3 separate regions of the Homo sapiens genome follow, and all the other regions are linked to region 3. Evidence: fine-mapped expression QTL. A gene starts in region 3. Each other region holds a variant in brackets. All regions are shown on one strand. Distances are from middle to middle.

Region 1 (7,363 bases), 39 kb after region 3:
CAGCTATCTCGGTATCCCTTAGCCTAGTCCATATTTAAAAATTAATGATCACAAGCAGTTGTTTGTTTCCACAGCAAAACCTGGGTGACAGACCAAGTGACCCAGATGACTAGAATTTGACCTTCTTTTGTTGCCCACACCATACTCTGAACTAACATGCTGTGCTGCCTTCCAAGTGGAGAATGATGGCTAAGTATCTTCTACCTAATTTGAGTCACAGAAAAAAAAAAAAAAGGTTATTAACTGCAGTGACAAGAATTGTGATTCCCCAGGGGGCAGATCAAGACTGATAGATAAGAGAAGTGAGGAACATCTGGGGAATGTCCATTGAAAATTTACTCAGAAGAGAAGAATAATTAATATAATAATATGATATATTGAATTATAATAAATAATATTTTGATGTATTTCCTTCCAGGCATGTTTAAGTTATAGACTTTGAGTATATTTTCTCAAAGGGGGTTCTATGTAAGAGACTATTTCTTAATATAGTTCCTAGCTTGGAATTGCTCTTGCTGGTTTAAGCTGAGCTTATTTTATTACAGACTTCACAACAATAACGTTTTCCTTCACTAGTCAGTACACAAGATGGTCTTCATTTCCAGTTTGGAATCCCACACTATCAGAGCCTGAGACAAGGACTAGTATGCAGTTAGTTTGTTTGGGAGGTGATTCCAGGAAGTGGGAATGAGAGATCAGTCAGCCTGCAACACGAAGGAGGAAAAGTCAATATAAGGATGAATTTGGCAATTGGCCGTTTCATGCAACTGGGGCTAAATTTTGCTTGGCTCTCTAAGAAATGTAAAGAATGCCTCCCGTAATTGCTCACCTCAAGTATTTATTCATTGGCTCTCATGCTCCATTGGTTGTCCATGAGAACTTTAGCCCTCCCTCGCTGCAGCACAGACACTGTGCTTTCTCCTAGGCTGAGCAAGCTCCTGCATCTGTGGAAACCGTCCCGGGGCAGATAGTGAAATAATGACTGCTGCGTGCTTGAGATCTGGGAAAGAGGCCACATCATAAGTGCACTGAAATCAGAGATGTGTCAAGAGATGTGACACAGGGCATCTGAGGTGTCTACTGCACCAGCTATAACTCCCTAAACGCTAATCTCAGTTCTTACAGAGGGGATGGATGCAAGGGAACAGTCATGATTGAGAGCACCGAAGAAGCTCTGTATGAACCTTAGGCAAGTTTCCTAATCTCCAAAATGAAGGTAATAATACCCACCATCCAAGATCTTCGGGAGGAATAGATGAACTAATGTATGTGAAAATGTCCAGCACAGGTCCTAACCCATAGTAGGTGCTCACCAAATGTTAGTTCCCTGCCCTCCACGTTGTGTGTATCCGGAGCTGCACTAGATGCTGAGGCAAATGGTCTCAAATGTACTTTAACACTTAATGACTGAGATTTTTTCTGAGCTGCCTACAGGTTATTGACTATATTCATTATTAATAATAATATATATGGCCACTTCAGGCAACTGGGGCTAAATTTTGCTTGGCTCTCTAAGAAATGTAAAGAATGCCTCCTGTAATTGCTCACCTCAAGTATTTATTCATTGGCTCTCGTGCTTTATTGGTTGTCCCTGAGGACTTTAGCCCTCTCTCACTGCAGCACAGACACTGTGCTTTCTCCTAGTTTCTGTGGCAAGTGACAGGAGCCCACCTCAAACTAAAGCAAAAGGGACTTCATTGGCTCTTGTAGCTAGGAATTCCAGGGTTGGCACTGGCTTTGGGCACTACTGGATGCAGGAATTCAAACAATGTCTTCAACTCTTTCTTTTGGTGTTTCTCTCAGCTGTGCTTCTCTTGTCGTTTCTTTTTCCCATTTTACAGATAAGTTCATCCGTAACTGAGAGAGGTGAAAAGGGGATGGCTGCAGAGAACTCTGGCTTATATCATCCTTGCTTGCTGACCTCAAGGTCCATGTATAAATTCTCAGAGAAGAAGCCCTCTGGTTGGTGATGCTTGGAACATGCCCTGGAGGGTGGGCCCCTTGAAGTGGAGCTTGCTGGAACCACATGGGCTGGAGCAAGGCGCTAGGGCCAGAAGAGAGAGGTAGGCAGGGCTGCTGGCCAGGCACTCTTCACCAAGACAAGGCAAGAGGAGGGGCATGATTGAGGCAGTGATACAGAAAGCAGACAGTAGAGGTCGTGGCAAGTGTGCCGTTACTTGCTACCTGTGGTTGATGGGAGAGTCACACCACATTTAGGAGGAGAGAATCCATTTGCCACTTCTGACAATGCCACAAGAATCACATATTTCATCCAGAGGTTGAATTTGGCCCATGCTGAGCTTTAAAATACAGAGCTGTCTTGGAACAATGGCTCAGTACATTCATTTGGTGTCCAACAAAGCCTGCCTCTGTTGCCTTCCCTCTCTCTGTGTGCCCTTCAAGATCTTCATTGTGCTTTGGGGAGAGAAAGAGAAAATGTCATATCAGGGTAGCTCACCCCATGTGTCCTGGACTCAGGAAAAGAGTATCTTATCACCTTACTCTTTTGTTATTATAAAAAATAAAGTTGAACGTCTTCAAATAAAATAAAGAAGTATAGAAAAAATTTTAAATTAACCTGTTATGATTCTACCTAGAGAACCATTGTCAACATCTTGGTATATGTACTTCCAGATACTTTCCTATGAATATATACATTGTAGATTTTTTAATATTAAAAGGCTATCATGCTGCTTTGTATACAGGCTTTCTTTACTGATATGTAATATAATACACAGACAAATATACAAATCCTAAGCCATCAACTCATTGAATTTTTATTCATTGTTTTTAATACCTGCATTGTGTTCCATTGTTAGGCTATGTCACAACATATTTAATTAAGCCCCTATTGATGAATATTAATTTACTCTATTTGCCAGTTCATTCCAGTCCAACATTTATTGAGTGTCTACTTACGGGCCAGGCACTCTTGTATTCATCAAGATCACCACATTATCTGTATCAGTTATTTATTGCCACAATAAAACTGCATAACAAATCACTCCAAAATGTAGCACCTTAAAACTACAACTACTTATTATTTCTCAAGAGTCAATGGGTCAGCTGAGCAGTTCTGCCGATAGGGGTCAAGGTCAACACATTTCAACTAGACTACTTGTAAAAAAGAATGAGTGTCTGGGTAGGTGTGTTCTTCTAAAAATAAAACAAGGAATGAGGAAATTGCAGGTAGGATAAGAGGGGTGGTTGGCAACCAAACCCCACAAAAGGCAGACAAATTTTAAGGAAACATAATGCCAGACTCCTATGTCATCATCCAAGTAGATGCAGTGAAGTATAACCTGGGGCGTAGTAGGGTAGGAGTGGGGAGAGCAGAGGAGAAGGAAGGGAGATTGCTTTTCATCACTTTTGGATTCCCTAATAACAGACATGACTGCCAGTATTAAAATTTAACAAAGGATATCTGATCATTAATTTTCCTGTATAAGTCACTGGTGATCTTCAACATCTCTCCCTCCCTTCCTCCCTTCCTTCCTCCCACCCTCCCTTCCTTCCTTCTTTCCTCTTTTGCTTTCAACTTCCTTTTCTCGTTTCCTTTTGCTTTCTTTCTCTTCTCCCTTTTTTCTGTCACTCTGGGCGTATGTAGTAGTGTAAAAAGGTTGACAGAGAAATCAAATATAACAGGAGCAGGGCCCTGAGAAAAGCACCTGGCATCCTGTAGGCAAACCATTGTTTCTAAAAGAAGGGACTGAGAGATTGAGGAGCTCAGGACATTGCCAAATGAACAAGGCAAGCACATTTATTCAGTACCAAACAAACGGAAAACGGCCTTTCCAAATAACTGACCTATAAAACAGCCTTTTCACAAGAGTACCGTAATTACTGGCCAACAGCAACAATGAAAAACAACTCCCAAACAAAGAAATATTTCTGGATTAAAAGCCATGAGATCTGGATTCTAACAAGCTGTGCTCCTCAAACTACAAGTACAAAATCTGGCTCTAAACTAACAAGCTATGAGCCTCAAACTGATGACTGGCATGTTTGGGTCTCCATCTCCTTCTTGGGGGTTGGGGTCTTAGAGACCCTTTTCCACGCCCTGATTCTCTTACTAGTGTGTATGCTTTCCTTTTGACTTCTCATGCTGACCGTCTGAGCAGGAGTGAGAAGCAATTTCAAAGGAAAACATCGTTTATCATCTGCTGAAAGAAACCAAAAAGAACACAGGAAAACAAAAAGACAAGGAAAGGGAATGAAAATGTAATTCATTTTATTAAAAAGAAGAATTATTCTTCTGGGACACTGGATAGAAACCTTAATGAGTTACCTAGCTATCATAAATCCTCTAACAGAGAAGAGAAGAGAAAGAAACAAAGACGGAAGAGGGCAGGATAAAAGAAAGAAAAAAGGAAGGGAAAAATGAAGGAAGGAAGTTATCTATTCATTTCTACAGAGACTCTGCTGAGCAGTAGACAAGAAGACTTGGGAAAAATTTAACTGAAACTTTTCCAAAAATCTTTTCAGAGGGATTTTTTCCCTCTGAAAAGCATCATTAGAGGCTGTTCAATACCCAAGGCAAGCCTCTTTCATATTACTTACTGTACATGAAACACTCATGCAATTGAGGCTAGCCAGAGGCCATTTAGAAATTCAATAATTATTCAACCCAAGGGGCTTTCCAAATGGTGAAGTAGCTTCTTAAGAGGAAATTA[A/G]TATTGAGCAGTATAGCAAACCTAATTGGAATCTTGAGAAAATAGTTCTGTGTCGTTAGAACAGCTAGAGGCTAAAGAAGATCAGGTTGGATGATACCTTCATTTTTGTCTCTTTCCTTAATTATGATGTAAAGGGAAAAATCTTGTTTATTTTCTATGCCAGGAGGGTAGAGGGTGATTTGGAGAGGTTCCAAGTTTATCAAAATCTACCTTCAGTCTGGCAGTAGAAAAGTTTACTTCCTTCATTTCTTTCCTATAGACATTCAAAGAGAGCTAAGGAGATCCAAAAACCTTTTTTTCTATATTTGCAATGCAAGGCAGTTGGGAATTAATGACTGATTTGTTGGTGAGGGCAGTGGGCATTGATCACAAAAGCAGTAAAGCTGTGTTTCTCAAAGAGAGAAAGTCTCTTTGAGATCTTCATTATTTTACTATTTAGAAGAGAAAGGGGCGTTATATCACGTTGGAAGCATCCATGAGTCACTAGTCTCTTCTCTATCTTTCTATGCCTTTCTGTATTAATTACTTTGAAAGCACAACATTCCAAACCCATTGAGCACACAGTGGTCTGATTTCTCCACTTGTGAAAGGTGCTAAAGTCTCACTGTAGGATTAATTTGGGGGTCCAGGCTATGGGCTTGTAGATATGACTACCTTAGACTTTGGTTCTCCTGGCAACTAACCCTTTTTGGATCGTATCTAAGTTGACCTGTTTCACAGTGAGAGAACTCCTCTCCATTACTCAGAATACTGAGGCAGATCACAAGTGTACCACACCTGGCTAATGTTAAGCCAGACAGAAACATCAGGCTCATCTCTTGAGAAGAAGGGTCGCTTATTAAGGATACAAACTATTTTTTTTTTTTTTTTTTGAGACAGGGTCTCATTGCCCAGGTTAGAGTGCAGTGGTGCAATCATAGCTCACTGCAGCCTCAACCACATGGGTATTTTTAAATAAGAAAAAAATACCATCTGATAGATATGAAGGAGCATTGGGTCACTATAAACAAAACAGATTCTAAGAGCAGGAAGAAAGAGTACAGTCTCTTTTCAATAATTTTTTTTTAAACTTGGGAAAGAACACTCACTCTATTCCTATAGACCAGAAAGCAGATAATTGTCCATTATGATTCCACATGACACTATCTTGTTCAGCTGTCACTGAAACAACTTTGAACACTGTCATATGTTCTTCCCAGCTCCTGAACTCTGACCTTTTTATGCCTTAGTTCCACTTTCACAAAAAGGGATTGATGTAATGTGCATTTCAGAGGAAACGACTATAGACATTTAGTGTCATTATAAATGTTGAGAAGTATGCTGGCAGAAATTATGCCTTAAGATCATATATGGATTCTTGTATGGTTTGAAATTGCTTAAAAGATATATATGATCTCTAAAATGTGTGTGTATATATATATGATGTCTTCTTATATATCTATATGTGATATATTTATATATATATAAATCTGTGTATATCACATATATAAATTTGCTGTTATTTGAATTGCCATTACCTCAGTGCTTAGGGGAAGCCATGCACGTTTGTTTCTTTTCAGTACCCAGAGTTAATTAACATAAGTTATCACAGAAGCTCCCATAAGCATTGAGACAATTTCTCTATACCTGTGACTATTTAAGGTTTTGAAAACAAAACAGAAGCAGGTAAGGAGGAAGTACGCTTTACTATTGAAGATTTATTAGGTACACATTTAGATTTGTGAACTCACATTGCTTAGGATGAAAGGGACTCTTGAGGATGTCTGCTGTTTGTTAGTGAACTGCCTGTAACAATTACAATTAGCACACACATGAGCACAATGAACTGGGTAGTCAGACTCAGCCAAAATGAATAGAAATAGCCTCTTACCAAATTTACTTTGAGTAGCCCTTGGACTCTGAGCACTGCTGCCCAGAGCAATATGACTGTAGGTCCAAGTTTGTCAATGACTATGCAAATGTGCTTTCTTCGCTTTTACTCTATTGTCATCTGTCTATTACAATGTTGCTATGGTGACACCTTTCCAATATCCCTGTGCTTCTTTGGTATCCTCTAAGGGGAAGCTGTAATGAAGTGGCTTGGCAAAAGAATCCTCTTGGAATTTTTTTTTTTTCATATGCTACTGAAAACCAGCATGATTTTCCTCTTATGGGAAATGTATAAAGTATGAGTTGGAAATGATGGAAATTAATCTGTACTGACTTGGGCAAGGAATGTGAATGTTATTCATTCTGTTCCAAACTACCTGAAAATATTCTCTTTCTGTTCCTACTTTCCAGGAGATAACATCTTAAGGGACACTGAAGCTTGTGCGTGTGTGAGTAGAACACGTGCTGGGGGCTCTTGAGCTCATGAGGGAGGGGCTACATGTCGGTGGGGTGATAACTGTATGCTGGAAACAATGATAGGTGGTGACCCTGGAGCACTTACCATGTGACAGGTGTTATGCTAAGCATGTTGTATGCATTCCTTCATTGAATGACAGCTACCTATATTATCCTCATTTTATAAGATGAGGTAACAGAGCTTCAGAAAGGTTAGACTCAGCTGCTATGGGTCTGTCTGACTCTGGTGTTCTTCCTCTTAAAAACTGGGGCACTTTGGAAATGAGATTCCTCGGTGATGAACAGAAATATTGCTTAGCGGCTGTATTTTTGTATCTGGCAGTTTTCCCATATTTGAGTCTTAT
Region 2 (8,264 bases), 26 kb before region 3:
TTATTGGCAGAGTTCTAGAATTACAATTCCATCATTCTGTTTTGGGGAAGTTTCCCTTGAAGTAAATGATAACAGGGCTTGAAATAGTACACCTCAGCATTTTGTTTATAAAACTGTGGAATAGGTAAGGTTTGTATTGTAACTGAACCCAGGTTCAGCTGCTTGCTGCTCTAAAGCTAGACATAAGAGAGGAAGGTTGGTGGGAGGAAAAGCGATTTTAATCGGAGAAGCAGCAAACCAAGAAGATGGTGAACAATAGTCACAGAACCATCTTAAATTTTAAAATTTACCATAGAGTGTTCAAAGGAAAACTTGGTATGGGAGGCATGCAGGAGGGGTGCAGGGGGCGGGGTCTGTGTGTCTTGTTCCAATGGCTATCTCAGATAGTCACCCATCTGGAGGTCTAGTTGGTATTATTTTGAATTCAGCCCAGTGGTGGTGGACTGTCAGTGACTCCTCGCTAAGCAGGAGGATTCTGCACTCAGGGCTCCATGCATGGTTTGTTTCAAGATTGGCCTCTGGAATTTCTCAAGCAAGAACATAATTAAATAAGCAGGCATTGCCAGAGGGGAGTGTCTGGAAAGGAAAGGAATGAAGAGATGAAAGGAAAGTGGGTGGTTAAACTATATTTTTAAAACTGAGGTTCCCAGTTATAGTATGTTTCGCACGCTCCCCCCATTTTAGCACCCCTGACAGAATTTAGTAATCTCCTCATCTTGTCCTCTACTTCAGGTCCCCTATCTGTCCTTGTACTCTCCAGGGTTTCCTTTTCTTCTTCACGACCTTCCTTCCCTGCAATTTTATAAGCTATTCCTATCCCAGTGATTTAGTTTCAGCTTATAAAACTGTGTCTTTGCCATTGTAATCAAATTGAAGGGCCTCTGCTTCATGGTTGGATTCTGTGACCAGGAGACTCTTACGAGGAGTTGGCCAGGTCTCTGTTAGGAAAGCAAAAAAGAACAATGGAGGCAATTATCCCATTGATTTCAGCTATAAATCCTATTTTGCCTGAATTGTCTGAACGATGAGTATTCTGTGAAAATGCTGCTCTCTAGTGCAATAGAACTGCAAATAATGCACATCTATTTCTTATAATCTCATCCAACATACCCACAGAGATTCAGATCTAACAAAACAGAGGTGATTTGGTTATTGAATCATAATATAAATATGGGGAAGAGGAGGGAAATTTCAAGCCTGAGGAAACTGTAGTAGGAGTAAGTATGCTGTGTTTAAGAGGTCACAGATAAAATTAATATTACCAATCCATCAATAGGCAATTACTAATAGCTTACTACACACACAGGAATAAAATGTGAAGACAGAGGAAGTGTAAAATGGAGCCGCCAACTCTACGGAGTTGTTTGCAATTTGGTCTGGTAGAAAGCTATGAAATAAGGAAGTACATGATTGAGAGCTAGAGAATGTGGCACAGGCTCTGAACCCGGACCGTTCAATGTAGTAAGCTCTAGCCACACTGGACACTTGCAATGTGGCTTGTCCAAACTGACATGTGCTTTAAGTATAAAATATAATCCAGATTTCTAAGACTTCAAAAAAAATGGAAATATCTCATTAATAATCTTAAGTTTATTACAGGTAGAAATGATAGATTAAATAAACTATATTGTCAAAATTCATTTGATCTGTTTCTACAGTATAACAAACTTACTTGTGTGGTTTGCATTTTATTTCTACTGGATAACATGGCTTTAAAAATGGTATTTTAGAGGAAGGAAAGCTTGGTAGAGAATGGACTAATCCGGATCCCTGGAAGAAATGGACCTTGAATGGGTCTTGATGACTTGGAGAGGCAGAGAGAGAAAAAGAAAAGTCAAACATAGGGAATTGGTTGATAAAATGAAGGTGAGGGGAGAAGGAACAGAGGGAGGAGAAGATCCAGTTTGAGGGATATTACAGCGAGCAGCCTGAGAAAGAAGGATAAGAAAGGAGAGAAAAAATGCAAGGGAAGTAACCCTTCAAAGCCAGTCAGAAGTTTCTGGGTTCCTCAGCAGCCAGAAAAGAAGCCGTTGAAAAGATCTGAGTAACGGAGATTCTGGACGAAAACTGAAGTTATGGAAGGGAAGTTTAGACATGGGTTATTAAACGCTTTAGCGCATTAGAAGTTTCTTATGTAATCACTAAATTCAGATCCTGAAATAATGCCACAAGAACTATACAGCTCAGCCACCCAATTCAATAAGAAGTTACAGCACAGTCTCACACATATCCAATTAACCTTGGCCTTTAGTCAACATCTGGGTTCTTTTTGTCATTTTCAAATACTATCACCCAGAGGTGCTATGATTTATATTGGGGAGGGGATTAAAAGAAAATAAGTAAGTTGGTGATAAGAAAAAGCTTTCAGATGATTCCATCTGAATTAACAGCCCTCTTTAGTTGTCTAGGAAAGAGGATGCTTTTTCTTGAAAGTGCTTTGAAATGATGATGTGCTTGTTAGTAAACATCAATTATTTTCAAATCGTAATGTTTGCAAGTTTGTCTTCCTGTAGCTCACCCTTTATGTAGGTCCAGAATATGATTGTCACAAATATCTGGGTGAGCAAGACTATGAAATGTGGTCATAAAGTAAGTGATTATTTCTAAACTCATCTTTGTCACTCGTAGTGCTTCACAAAGCACCTTTTCCTGGACTACAATTCATTTTAATTGATCCCATCAGCACTATATCTGTATCCTGAGTGACTTCACAATACCCTCTATTTCAAGAGAAACCAATCAGGTTATGGGTTTGTTAGTAATAAAAATTACCAAGGAGCAGTTTGTGGATGGTAAAAGCAATGCAAATTCTAAAGAGAAGTCATAAGAGCAATAATAAGCATCCTCCTCACTTCTTGGAAGTGAACAATTCCAAGCTCCCTGAAGCAACACTTAACCTATCATATTAAACAGTAATGGACAAATATTAGAAATGTTGATGTCAGCTTTCAGAATCTGTGGGCATCAAAACATCACTTAAGTTCTCCGAAGTATTCTCTGTCAAGTTTCCTTCTACAGTATTCTTTTCCTACTAGGACAGAGCCTTAAGCCCTAGAAGAATAATTTTGCTTGTGTGTTAATTATTTGTTTACTGGTTCATTCCAGAGTGTGAGCTGGAAAAAGGGGGAAGTGTCATAAATAGTTTTTTATGGCCCATGGTTTTTCAACTACGTCACTATTGGTAGCAGTTTCCACTGCAGGATCTATTTGCAAAGCCTAGGAAATTAGCATTAAGCAAGCTGCTAGGAAGACTTCAACAGTAACTAGGCCACAGGCCTCACACATTTTTCCTCCACCCCAGCCTCCTCTGGAGAGTACTTGCTAAACCTCTGTGACACATAATGAAGCAAAGAAAGTGATAGAACAACAGAATTACACGGGCAGATCCTTGTTTCTTCTTCTCTCTCTAAAGAATTCCTTGGACTGAAAAGCAGTTTATTTTGGAGGAGTGAGAAAGTGGTGACAGAATTAGAAGGGCCTGGGAGGGCTTCATTTTAGGAGACAGTTTTAGGCTGAAAAGAGATTTCATGAGTGTGATTTACCTGAGGTGACTTTTGGGGGCTCTTATAAAAAGGAAGTTCATGCTGAATGGGAGGTGGCTTCTGAGATGCAGATTCTGGTGAGCTAAGAGGGCTCGGTAAAGAGGAGGCAGGAGTTAAGTAGCGTGAACTATGCAGTAGCAGCCTTCTTCCCCCCTTGCTTGGGGCAGGTCATCACAACCCTTCTCAATAAAGGGGTCCAGGAACCACTAGGAATAAATGGGCATTTGCACTTCAGGTGAAACCCATTTGTCATAACTGCTTGGACTTTAAGCTTACAAATAAAAAGAACCACATATTTCCCTTTGCAGCTTGATTTAGTTAATGTCATTTTGAGAAAGAAAGAAGACATTGTTATCCCGTCCCTTTTTTTTTTTTTTTTTTTTTTTTATGAAGAGACTGGGACTCAGAGAAGTCAAGTGATTTTCCCAGAACCAGAAAACACAGAAGTAGCAGAGCTGAGATGACTACTCCGGTCTTCTGATTCCAAATTCCAAATTCATTCTTCTAAGCGATTTCCCAAAACGGGAAATGGGTTTATCTTCTATTTATGGGAAGTGATAGTGGTATTCTATTTAGAGAACTTATATAAAATCTTACTTTAAAATAAATAATATTTCAAAAAGTAAGCTTAATTTAAAGAAAATAATCAAGAAAGTCTGGTATATTTTTACAAATATACCAAATGACCTTGCTCTAAAATACATCTACTTTCCAGCAAGCCAAAGTGAAACAATTTGAAATAAGTGGCATTTACTGACCACTCCCTAAAGTTCACACAAAAGAGGTAGTACTCTAACTTAAATATACAAGGTGAAGAAATAGCTTACTCAGCCTGTTGGGCTTCCTCTTCTACACTCTTGGGAAATGCCCTCCGTGTTAACCAAGAATTCTCAGGCCTTGGAGGGAGTTTTCCATTCTCAGTAAACTGAGATTGCAGTTGCGGAAATTAAGAGGTATCTGTCCAGCACTTCATTCCCTTAAGGTCAGGATCTGTGCTTTTAATAATGACAATTAGCTAACATATACAATTAAGCCATGCAAATGAAGTAAGAGAAAGCTAGAGGAGAAATTCAGGAGCCAGTTGCCTTTTCCAGACATCTTGTACAAATAGTGTTCAAAGGACTAATTCAAAAGATGGGATTCTTCGCTTGAACCCAGGAGGTGGAGTTTGCAGTGAGCGGAGATCGCTCCACTGCACTCCAGCCTGGGTGACAAAGTGAGACCCCATCCAAAAAAAAAAAAAAAAAAAAAAAAAAAAGATGGGATTCTTTTTTAAAAAATAAATTTTACTGCGTATTTTTAAGGTATACAACGTGATGTTATAAGATGGATATAGATAGTGAAAAGGTAACTGTAGTGAAGCAAATTAACATATTCATCATCTCACATAGTTATCTTTTATTTGTTTTGTTTTGATGGGATTTTTAAGATAGTAGAAAGGAATGGTAGACAATAAACATTTGAGGGAAAGTGGGGCTTTGTAGAACTCCTAAAATGACAG[C/G]ACGCACAAATGTCCCCATTATGTCTAAAGGGTAACTCGTTCCTACTTCTAGGGACAGCTGAGGGACATCAATGTAAATTTCTAAATGACTTCCTGAACTTTTTATTTTTATTTTTTGTATTTTTAGAGGAAATTATAATAACATCAAGCCACCTCTGGACCATATCGCTGCTGATATCATCAGCAAATGGCACTATTCCTAAATCCTAAGATGCACTTTTCCCTTCACATTTCAACATTTGTGAAACTCGATTGTACCTACACCTGATTTTATATACAATGCAGCCTTTCCTTTTCTTTTGTCATTGCATCTTACGCCTGATTTCTCCTTGGAATTGAGTAAATATAATGCTTACATGTGTTAATAAGAATTGAGGTCACTCATAATTTTTGAAATATGCCACCAAATATAAGCCTTTCTACATATTGTTGACTTTGAAGTCATTTCTTTTTTTAACTACTAAACAATAACACTTTTTGTTGAGAAAAATTGCATATGAACAAGAGACCAAGCAGGTAGAGAGAAAAAAACTTTTAATAATCAAGAGAATGTTACTGTGTCCCAAAGGCTAAAGTCACCTTACTATCAAGAGAGAAGGACAGGAACAGAGAGAACCAGGTAAATTACGAATTGAAAATTCCATGGTTCATTTATCTTTATTTTTAATAATTCCATTTGTGTGATTGTGTTGACCACAAGGTCATAATGTTACTCTTCATACTGACTTCTCATGTAAATTATAAATAAGTTTTTATGCTAATGATTTATGGAGTAAGCTATTCATCTTTCCGACAGAGAGTTACCTACAAAGAAATAATTATTCTACCTCTGAGATGAAATATCATGAAAGGAGTGGTTTCCAGATATTTTGACTTTTAAAAGCTTAAAGAATATATGTAGTATAAAATTCTAAAGCAGGCAAAATTAATCCTTTTAGCAATCAAGATAGCGGCTACTTTTGGTGAGAAGGACAAGGTAGTGATAGAGAAGGGGCTCAGGGGTCTTTCCTGAAGACAGTGAGGTGGGCAATGGTATTTTCCTTGACCTGGATGGTGATTAAACAGATGTGTTTACTTTGTGATAATTGACTAGGCTGTGCACCTATGAACTGCATACTTTTCCATATATGTACTGTATTCTTATACTTAAAAAGAAGTTTAAAAATAAATGCAACAGATATAGGACTTCCTATATTACTCGTTGACCAAAAAAATGGATTCATTTTTCTTTCAGGTAAAACGTACTAGTGGTTTTAATATTATATTGACCAGGGAGTAAATGTTTACCTTAGGAACCTTAATCTTGATGTTCTCCAAAGTCATTATCTGTTCTTTCTGATTATCAGAATAGAGTATATCTCTATATAAATGAAAATTTCTGGTCATTCTCAAAAAATAACACTAAGCATGAAAATCAGAAATATTGATCTTGTTTTGTAATGATGTTTCTATTGATGTGAAGTAGTTTCTAGTAGAGTTGCTGTCCTAACACACAAATGAAATTGCACTGTTTGGAAGACACAACTGTGAATGACTTGCTTCAGTAAGGAATTTCCAACATGATGGTTTAGGGATAGAGGTGCTCGATTCCTCTGTCTCCGGTTACCCAGGTTATTGAGGACAGGGAGGTCAATAAGTAATGCCCTCCTCCCACCCATAGCACAAAACAGAGCGGGGTTCAGAGAATAGGTAAGGCTTTGGCCAGGGTGTTGAGGAGACTTACATCCCTGGGAACCAGTCAGAATGGGGGCGCTGAAAACAATGTTTTAAATTCTAGCACCCAGCAACATATGTGTGAAGATTAAATGTACTCGTGCTAAATTCACTTGCTCCATTACTGAATTTGGGTGGTGTCTGTTAAAGATGGGAACAAAGGCATTCAGGTCCTGGTATCTTCTACCACTCCCAGCATGAACAGACTCATGTCAGTGGGTAAGGGATGGTATTTCCCGAGAAGGCTTTGAACTCTTGTAGTGGGTCAAATAATGGCCCCCCACTTAAAAATGTTCATGTCCAAATCCCTGGAAGCTGTGAAAAGGGGTTTTTGCACATGTAATTAAGTCAAAGATATTGAAATTAGATCATCCTGGATTACATAGGTGGGCCCTACATTTAATGACAAGTATCCTCATAACAGAAGAGGAGAAGGTGATGTGAGATTTGGAGCAGCAGAGATTGGAGTGATGTGGCCACCAATCAAGGAAACCAAGGACTTCCAGCAGCCACCAGAAGCTGGAAGAGGCAAGGAAGGACTCTTCCCTAAAGCCTTTAAAGGAGCACAGCCCTACTAACACCTTGCTTTTGGGCTCTGGCCCGCAAAACTGTGAAAGGATACATTGCTGTTATTTGAAGCCACAGTTCGTAGTAAATTTATTACAGCAGCCCTAGAAACTGATACAACTCCTAAATACACCCTTAGCAACACTGCTCAACAAGAAGTAGGCAATTTCCTCCTGACTGAAAAATACTGATACTGTTATGGGATCCTTGGGGGTGTTGCTTTTCTGTCCAGAAACCTCTGTGGCGGTGGCACCTTTGCATGAGTTTTGCTCGGGTCCACTGGGCCCACTCATCCTGGCAGGCTGCGCTCAGCTGACACTACTGGCGTGGATCCCATGCCTCCAAAGAGACTGGAGCGAAGCGGTGAGGGATGTGTGAGGAAGTGAGCGTGGGGTCTGGCACACAGTCAGGCTCAATGGCTGCTACAGCGGGATGGGCAGCTTCAGGTGCTGGCACGGGTGCTGGCTCACTGCAAGGCTGTGGCTGCACCAAGCAGCGCAGCAACGGAACGCATTGGTGCCTGGAAACTTGGAGACTCCAGGAACCTCAGGGCTCCAAAAGGCAAATCACAGCCCTAGCTTCGGGAGCTCCCAGGTCTGGGCTGCCAAAGGGCTGCAGCTCTTCTCTCCTCTCTCTCTCTTCGCTCCTCTCCCTTTCTCTCTTCACTCCTCCCTCTTTCTCTCTTCACTCCTCCTGTCGCCTATGAACAGCGAATTCAACCTTCCAGTTTTCAGACTAGGAATGCTGGAGTTGTCCTTGATTACTCTGAATTGTTCACTCCGCATATGGGCACTGAGGATACGTTGATGAACTACACAGACAAAAAGGATAGAAATTCCTGTCAAGACTACATTCAATAGGGATGAAGCAGGCAATAATGAATAAACATACTAAGTTGAATATGACTATTTAAATATATATAACACATATGACTTGTATAA
Region 3 (8,264 bases):
AAGGACATGAACTCATCATTTTTTATGGCTGCATAGTATTCCATGGTGTATATGTGCCACATTTTCTTAATCCAGTCTATCACTGTTGGACATTTGGGTTGGTTCCAAGTCTTTGCTATTGTGAATAGTGCCACAATAAACATAGTGTGCATGTGTCTTTATAGCAGCAGGATTTATAGTCCTTTGGGTATATACCCAGTGATGGGATGGCTGGGTCAAATGGTATTTCTAGTTCTAGATCCCTGAGGAATCGCCACACTGACTTCCACAATGGTTGAACTAGTTTACAGTCCCACCAACAGTGTAAAAGTGTTCCTAATAGGCATTTTAGGCTTTCATGGTGGTCCCTCTCATCACAGGCCCCGAGGCCTAGGAGGACTGAATCATTTCCTGGGCCAGGCCTAGGGCCCCTGCTCCCTCTTACAGCCTTGGGACTCTGCTCCCTGAATCCCAGCTGCTCAAAGGGGCCCAGGTACTGTTACAGTAGGTAGCTAATCAGGCATGAGTGGGGTAAGAGAGAAGTCCCCACCACCCACCAGGAATGTCAGGCAACCATCAGATGATGGTCAGGCAGTTGTCATACTGCCTCTCTAAAATAGTAATTGGTTGCAGCCAGCACCAGGGAGAGGCAACTTCTCAATAGATAGAAACACCTGAAATTGGTAACTGGGCGCTTCCAATAAGATCTCAGGAACTGAGAGAGTGGGCTTAACATGCACATTAAGAGGCAAAATGGTGAAGTATGACCTTTGGGGGCATTCCACCGGAAAAGGGAAGAAAGCCTCAGGTAAGCATGTATACAACTCCAGTAAACACACTGCACACGCTCACCTTCCAAGTGCAAGCAGGGCACCATGCATGCGGCAAGCTCACCCTTAGGGAAGGACCAAGGGAAAGGGGCACAAGATGTCAGAAGTAGGCCAGTGTATAAGATCCTAGGTTCAAGGTCAAACAGGGCACTTGACCTCCAAGGTGCCCACTTGGGCCTCTTCCAAATGTACTTTCCTTTCATTCCTGTTCTAAAGCTTTTTAATAAACTTTTACTCCTGCTCTGAAACTTGTCGCAGTCTCTTTTTCTGCCTTATGCCTCTTGGTCAAATTCTTTCTTCTGAGGAGGCAAGAATTGAGGTTGCTGCAGACCCACATGGATTTGCAGCTGGTAACTCAGATAACTTTCACCAGTAAGAATACAGTTCAGGCTGCTGCTTCACAGGGTGCCAGGCATAAGCCTTGGTGGCTTCCATAAGCTGTGAAGCCGGCGGGCGCACATAATGCAAGAGTTGAGGCTTAAGAAGCTCTGCCTAGATTTTAGAGGATGTATGAAAAAGCCTGGATGTCCAGACAGAAGCCTGTTACTGGGGTGGAATCCTCATGGAGAACATCTACTAGGGAAGCAAGGAGAAGAAATGTGGGGTTGCAGCCCCCACAGAGAGTCCCCTGGGGCACTGCCTAGCAGAGCTATGACAAGACAGCCACCGTCCTCCAGACCCCAGAATGGTAGATCCACCAACAACTTGCACCCTGCAGCCTGGAAAAGCTGCAAGCACTCAATGCTAGCCCATGAGAGCAGCTGTGGGAGATGAACCCTGGAAAACCACAGGGGTGGTTCTGCCCAAGGTTTTGGGAGCCCACTCATTGCATCAGTGTTCCCTGGGTGTGAGTCAAAGGAGATTATTTCAGAGCTTTAACATTTAATGACTGCCCGGCTGGCTTTCAGACTTGCAATGGGGCCCTATAGCCTCTTTCTTTTGGCAGATTTCTCCCTTTCGGAATGGCAGTATCTGCCCAATGCCTATACCCCCATTGTATCTTTGAAGCAATTACCTTGTTTTTGATTTTACAGGTTCATAGGTAGAAGGGACTAGCTTCGTCTCAGGTGAGACTTGGGACTTTGGACTTTTGAATGAATGCTGGATCGAGTTAAGACTTTGGGGAACTGTTGGTAAGGCACGACAGTATTTTGCAATATGAGAAGGACATTAGATTTGGGAGGGGCCAGAGTTGGAATAACATGGTTTGGATCTCTGTCCCCACCCAAATCTCATGTTCAACTGTAATCCCCAGTGTTGGAGGTTGGGCCTGGTGGGAGGTGAGTGGATTATGGGGTGGCTTCTAATGGTTTTGTACAGTCCCCTCTTGGTACTATATAGTGAGTTCTGACAAGATCTAGTTGTTTAAACGTATGTAGCACCTCCCATTTCTCTCTTCCCCCAGTTCCTGCCATGTGAAGTCTGGGGTCTCCCTATGCCTTCCATCATGATTTTAAGTTCCCTATGGCCTGCCCAGAAGCTGATCCAGCCATGCTTCTTGTACAGCCTGCAGAACTGTGAGCCATTAAACTTTTCTTTATAAATTACCCAGTTTCAGTTATTTCTTTATAGCAGTGTAAGAATGGACTAACACAATTATTAACGCTAGTCCTCATGTTGTACATTAAATCTCTAGATGTATTAGACGTAACTGCAACTTTGTACCCTACCCTACAATTTTCTTTCCCCCCAAGCCCCCCAACCAAGGGTCTACTCTGTTTCTATAAATTCAGTTGTTTTTTAATTCCACGTATAAGTGAAGTACAACTCAGTGTAGAAACTTGGTAAATGCTAGCTACTTGTTATAAGCTGTCAGTCAAAATAAAAATACAGAGATGAATCTCTAAATTAAGTGATTTATTTGGGAAGAAAGAATTGCAATTAGGGCATACATGTAGATCAGATGGTCTTCGGTATATCCACACAACAAAGAAAAGGGGGAGGTTTTGTTAAAAAAGAGAAATGTTACATAGTGCTCTTTGAGAAAATTCATTGGCACTATTAAGGATCTGAGGAGCTGGTGAGTTTCAACTGGTGAGTGATGGTGGTAGATAAAATTAGAGCTGCAGCAGGTCATTTTAGCAACTATTAGATAAAACTGGTCTCAGGTCACAACGGGCAGTTGCAGCAGCTGGACTTGGAGAGAATTACACTGTGGGAGCAGTGTCATTTGTCCTAAGTGCTTTTCTACCCCCTACCCCCACTATTTTAGTTGGGTATAAAAAGAATGACCCAATTTGTATGATCAACTTTCACAAAGCATAGAACAGTAGGAAAAGGGTCTGTTTCTGCAGAAGGTGTAGACGTTGAGAGCCATTTTGTGTATTTATTCCTCCCTTTCTTCCTCGGTGAATGATTAAAACGTTCTGTGTGATTTTTAGTGATGAAAAAGATTAAATGCTACTCACTGTAGTAAGTGCCATCTCACACTTGCAGATCAAAAGGCACACAGTTTAAAAAACCTTTGTTTTTTTACACATCTGAGTGGTGTAAATGCTACTCATCTGTAGTAAGTGGAATCTATACACCTGCAGACCAAAAGACGCAAGGTTTCAAAAATCTTTGTGTTTTTTACACATCAAACAGAATGGTACGTTTTTCAAAAGTTAAAAAAAAACAACTCATCCACATATTGCAACTAGCAAAAATGACATTCCCCAGTGTGAAAATCATGCTTGAGAGAATTCTTACATGTAAAGGCAAAATTGCGATGACTTTGCAGGGGACCGTGGGATTCCCGCCCGCAGTGCCGGAGCTGTCCCCTACCAGGGTTTGCAGTGGAGTTTTGAATGCACTTAACAGTGTCTTACGGTAAAAACAAAATTTCATCCACCAATTATGTGTTGAGCGCCCACTGCCTACCAAGCACAAACAAAACCATTCAAAACCACGAAATCGTCTTCACTTTCTCCAGATCCAGCAGCCTCCCCTATTAAGGTTCGCACACGCTATTGCGCCAACGCTCCTCCAGAGCGGGTCTTAAGATAAAAGAACAGGACAAGTTGCCCCGCCCCATTTCGCTAGCCTCGTGAGAAAACGTCATCGCACATAGAAAACAGACAGACGTAACCTACGGTGTCCCGCTAGGAAAGAGAGGTGCGTCAAACAGCGACAAGTTCCGCCCACGTAAAAGATGACGCTTGGTGTGTCAGCCGTCCCTGCTGCCCGGTTGCTTCTCTTTTGGGGGCGGGGTCTAGCAAGAGCAGGTGTGGGTTTAGGAGGTGTGTGTTTTTGTTTTTCCCACCCTCTCTCCCCACTACTTGCTCTCACAGTACTCGCTGAGGGTGAACAAGAAAAGACCTGATAAAGATTAACCAGAAGAAAACAAGGAGGGAAACAACCGCAGCCTGTAGCAAGCTCTGGAACTCAGGAGTCGCGCGCTAGGGGCCGGGGCCGGGGCCGGGGCGTGGTCGGGGCGGGCCCGGGGGCGGGCCCGGGGCGGGGCTGCGGTTGCGGTGCCTGCGCCCGCGGCGGCGGAGGCGCAGGCGGTGGCGAGTGGGTGAGTGAGGAGGCGGCATCCTGGCGGGTGGCTGTTTGGGGTTCGGCTGCCGGGAAGAGGCGCGGGTAGAAGCGGGGGCTCTCCTCAGAGCTCGACGCATTTTTACTTTCCCTCTCATTTCTCTGACCGAAGCTGGGTGTCGGGCTTTCGCCTCTAGCGACTGGTGGAATTGCCTGCATCCGGGCCCCGGGCTTCCCGGCGGCGGCGGCGGCGGCGGCGGCGCAGGGACAAGGGATGGGGATCTGGCCTCTTCCTTGCTTTCCCGCCCTCAGTACCCGAGCTGTCTCCTTCCCGGGGACCCGCTGGGAGCGCTGCCGCTGCGGGCTCGAGAAAAGGGAGCCTCGGGTACTGAGAGGCCTCGCCTGGGGGAAGGCCGGAGGGTGGGCGGCGCGCGGCTTCTGCGGACCAAGTCGGGGTTCGCTAGGAACCCGAGACGGTCCCTGCCGGCGAGGAGATCATGCGGGATGAGATGGGGGTGTGGAGACGCCTGCACAATTTCAGCCCAAGCTTCTAGAGAGTGGTGATGACTTGCATATGAGGGCAGCAATGCAAGTCGGTGTGCTCCCCATTCTGTGGGACATGACCTGGTTGCTTCACAGCTCCGAGATGACACAGACTTGCTTAAAGGAAGTGACTATTGTGACTTGGGCATCACTTGACTGATGGTAATCAGTTGTCTAAAGAAGTGCACAGATTACATGTCCGTGTGCTCATTGGGTCTATCTGGCCGCGTTGAACACCACCAGGCTTTGTATTCAGAAACAGGAGGGAGGTCCTGCACTTTCCCAGGAGGGGTGGCCCTTTCAGATGCAATCGAGATTGTTAGGCTCTGGGAGAGTAGTTGCCTGGTTGTGGCAGTTGGTAAATTTCTATTCAAACAGTTGCCATGCACCAGTTGTTCACAACAAGGGTACGTAATCTGTCTGGCATTACTTCTACTTTTGTACAAAGGATCAAAAAAAAAAAAGATACTGTTAAGATATGATTTTTCTCAGACTTTGGGAAACTTTTAACATAATCTGTGAATATCACAGAAACAAGACTATCATATAGGGGATATTAATAACCTGGAGTCAGAATACTTGAAATACGGTGTCATTTGACACGGGCATTGTTGTCACCACCTCTGCCAAGGCCTGCCACTTTAGGAAAACCCTGAATCAGTTGGAAACTGCTACATGCTGATAGTACATCTGAAACAAGAACGAGAGTAATTACCACATTCCAGATTGTTCACTAAGCCAGCATTTACCTGCTCCAGGAAAAAATTACAAGCACCTTATGAAGTTGATAAAATATTTTGTTTGGCTATGTTGGCACTCCACAATTTGCTTTCAGAGAAACAAAGTAAACCAAGGAGGACTTCTGTTTTTCAAGTCTGCCCTCGGGTTCTATTCTACGTTAATTAGATAGTTCCCAGGAGGACTAGGTTAGCCTACCTATTGTCTGAGAAACTTGGAACTGTGAGAAATGGCCAGATAGTGATATGAACTTCACCTTCCAGTCTTCCCTGATGTTGAAGATTGAGAAAGTGTTGTGAACTTTCTGGTACTGTAAACAGTTCACTGTCCTTGAAGTGGTCCTGGGCAGCTCCTGTTGTGGAAAGTGGACGGTTTAGGATCCTGCTTCTCTTTGGGCTGGGAGAAAATAAACAGCATGGTTACAAGTATTGAGAGCCAGGTTGGAGAAGGTGGCTTACACCTGTAATGCCAGAGCTTTGGGAGGCGGAGGCAAGAGGATCACTTGAAGCCAGGAGTTCAAGCTCAACCTGGGCAACGTAGACCCTGTCTCTACAAAAAATTAAAAACTTAGCCGGGCGTGGTGATGTGCACCTGTAGTCCTAGCTACTTGGGAGGCTGAGGCAGGAGGGTCATTTGAGCCCAAGAGTTTGAAGTTACCGAGAGCTATGATCCTGCCAGTGCATTCCAGCCTGGATGACAAAACGAGACCCTGTCTCTAAAAAACAAGAAGTGAGGGCTTTATGATTGTAGAATTTTCACTACAATAGCAGTGGACCAACCACCTTTCTAAATACCAATCAGGGAAGAGATGGTTGATTTTTTAACAGACGTTTAAAGAAAAAGCAAAACCTCAAACTTAGCACTCTACTAACAGTTTTAGCAGATGTTAATTAATGTAATCATGTCTGCATGTATGGGATTATTTCCAGAAAGTGTATTGGGAAACCTCTCATGAACCCTGTGAGCAAGCCACCGTCTCACTCAATTTGAATCTTGGCTTCCCTCAAAAGACTGGCTAATGTTTGGTAACTCTCTGGAGTAGACAGCACTACATGTACGTAAGATAGGTACATAAACAACTATTGGTTTTGAGCTGATTTTTTTCAGCTGCATTTGCATGTATGGATTTTTCTCACCAAAGACGATGACTTCAAGTATTAGTAAAATAATTGTACAGCTCTCCTGATTATACTTCTCTGTGACATTTCATTTCCCAGGCTATTTCTTTTGGTAGGATTTAAAACTAAGCAATTCAGTATGATCTTTGTCCTTCATTTTCTTTCTTATTCTTTTTGTTTGTTTGTTTGTTTGTTTTTTTCTTGAGGCAGAGTCTCTCTCTGTCGCCCAGGCTGGAGTGCAGTGGCGCCATCTCAGCTCATTGCAACCTCTGCCACCTCCGGGTTCAAGAGATTCTCCTGCCTCAGCCTCCCGAGTAGCTGGGATTACAGGTGTCCACCACCACACCCGGCTAATTTTTTGTATTTTTAGTAGAGGTGGGGTTTCACCATGTTGGCCAGGCTGGTCTTGAGCTCCTGACCTCAGGTGATCCACCTGCCTCGGCCTACCAAAGAGCTGGGATAACAGGTGTGACCCACCATGCCCGGCCCATTTTTTTTTTCTTATTCTGTTAGGAGTGAGAGTGTAACTAGCAGTATAATAGTTCAATTTTCACAACGTGGTAAAAGTTTCCCTATAATTCAATCAGATTTTGCTCCAGGGTTCAGTTCTGTTTTAGGAAATACTTTTATTTTCAGTTTAATGATGAAATATTAGAGTTGTAATATTGCCTTTATGATTATCCACCTTTTTAACCTAAAAGAATGAAAGAAAAATATGTTTGCAATATAATTTTATGGTTGTATGTTAACTTAATTCATTATGTTGGCCTCCAGTTTGCTGTTGTTAGTTATGACAGCAGTAGTGTCATTACCATTTCAATTCAGATTACATTCCTATATTTGATCATTGTAAACTGACTGCTTACATTGTATTAAAAACAGTGGATATTTTAAAGAAGCTGTACGGCTTATATCTAGTGCTGTCTCTTAAGACTATTAAATTGATACAACATATTTAAAAGTAAATATTACCTAAATGAATTTTTGAAATTACAAATACACGTGTTAAAACTGTCGTTGTGTTCAACCATTTCTGTACATACTTAGAGTTAACTGTTTTGCCAGGCTCTGTATGCCTACTCATAATATGATAAAAGCACTCATCTAATGCTCTGTAAATAGAAGTCAGTGCTTTCCATCAGACTGAACTCTCTTGACAAGATGTGGATGAAATTCTTTAAGTAAAATTGTTTACTTTGTCATACATTTACAGATCAAATGTTAGCTCCCAAAGCAATCATATGGCAAAGATAGGTATATCATAGTTTGCCTATTAGCTGCTTTGTATTGCTATTATTATAAATAGACTTCACAGTTTTAGACTTGCTTAGGTGAAATTGCAATTCTTTTTACTTTCAGTCTTAGATAACAAGTCTTCAATTATAGTACAATCACACATTGCTTAGGAATGCATCATTAGGCGATTTTGTCATTATGCAAACATCATAGAGTGTACTTACACAAACCTAGATAGTATAGCCTTTATGTACCTAGGCCGTATGGTATAGTCTGTTGCTCCTAGGCCACAAACCTGTACAACTGTTACTGTACTGAATACTATAGACAGTTGTAACACAGTGGTAAATATTTATCTAAA

The links. PIP is the estimated chance that this variant, and not a neighbour inherited with it, causes the effect.
Region 1: its variant is fine-mapped to the expression of C9orf72 in monocytes after Pam3CSK4 (Quach 2016, PIP 0.95).
Region 2: its variant is fine-mapped to the expression of C9orf72 in whole blood (TOPMed, PIP above 0.99).

The regions. Positions count from the first base shown.
Region 1 is chr9:27,530,765-27,538,127 of GRCh38, reverse strand. No RefSeq gene overlaps it. Among named protein-coding and RNA genes, the nearest start is that of MOB3B, 4.6 kb to the right of the region's middle. RefSeq lists a silencer at 2,043-2,337. The variant A/G (reference allele first, on the strand shown) is at 4,674.
Region 2 is chr9:27,595,417-27,603,680 of GRCh38, reverse strand. No RefSeq gene overlaps it. Among named protein-coding and RNA genes, the nearest start is that of C9orf72, 26 kb to the right of the region's middle. The variant C/G (reference allele first, on the strand shown) is at 5,044.
Region 3 is chr9:27,569,475-27,577,738 of GRCh38, reverse strand. It overlaps C9orf72 (C9orf72-SMCR8 complex subunit), which reads left to right and starts at 4,258. Exons shown (of 11, transcript NM_018325.5): 1 at 4,258-4,308. RefSeq lists enhancers at 3,649-4,176, 4,775-4,864 and a silencer at 4,185-4,264.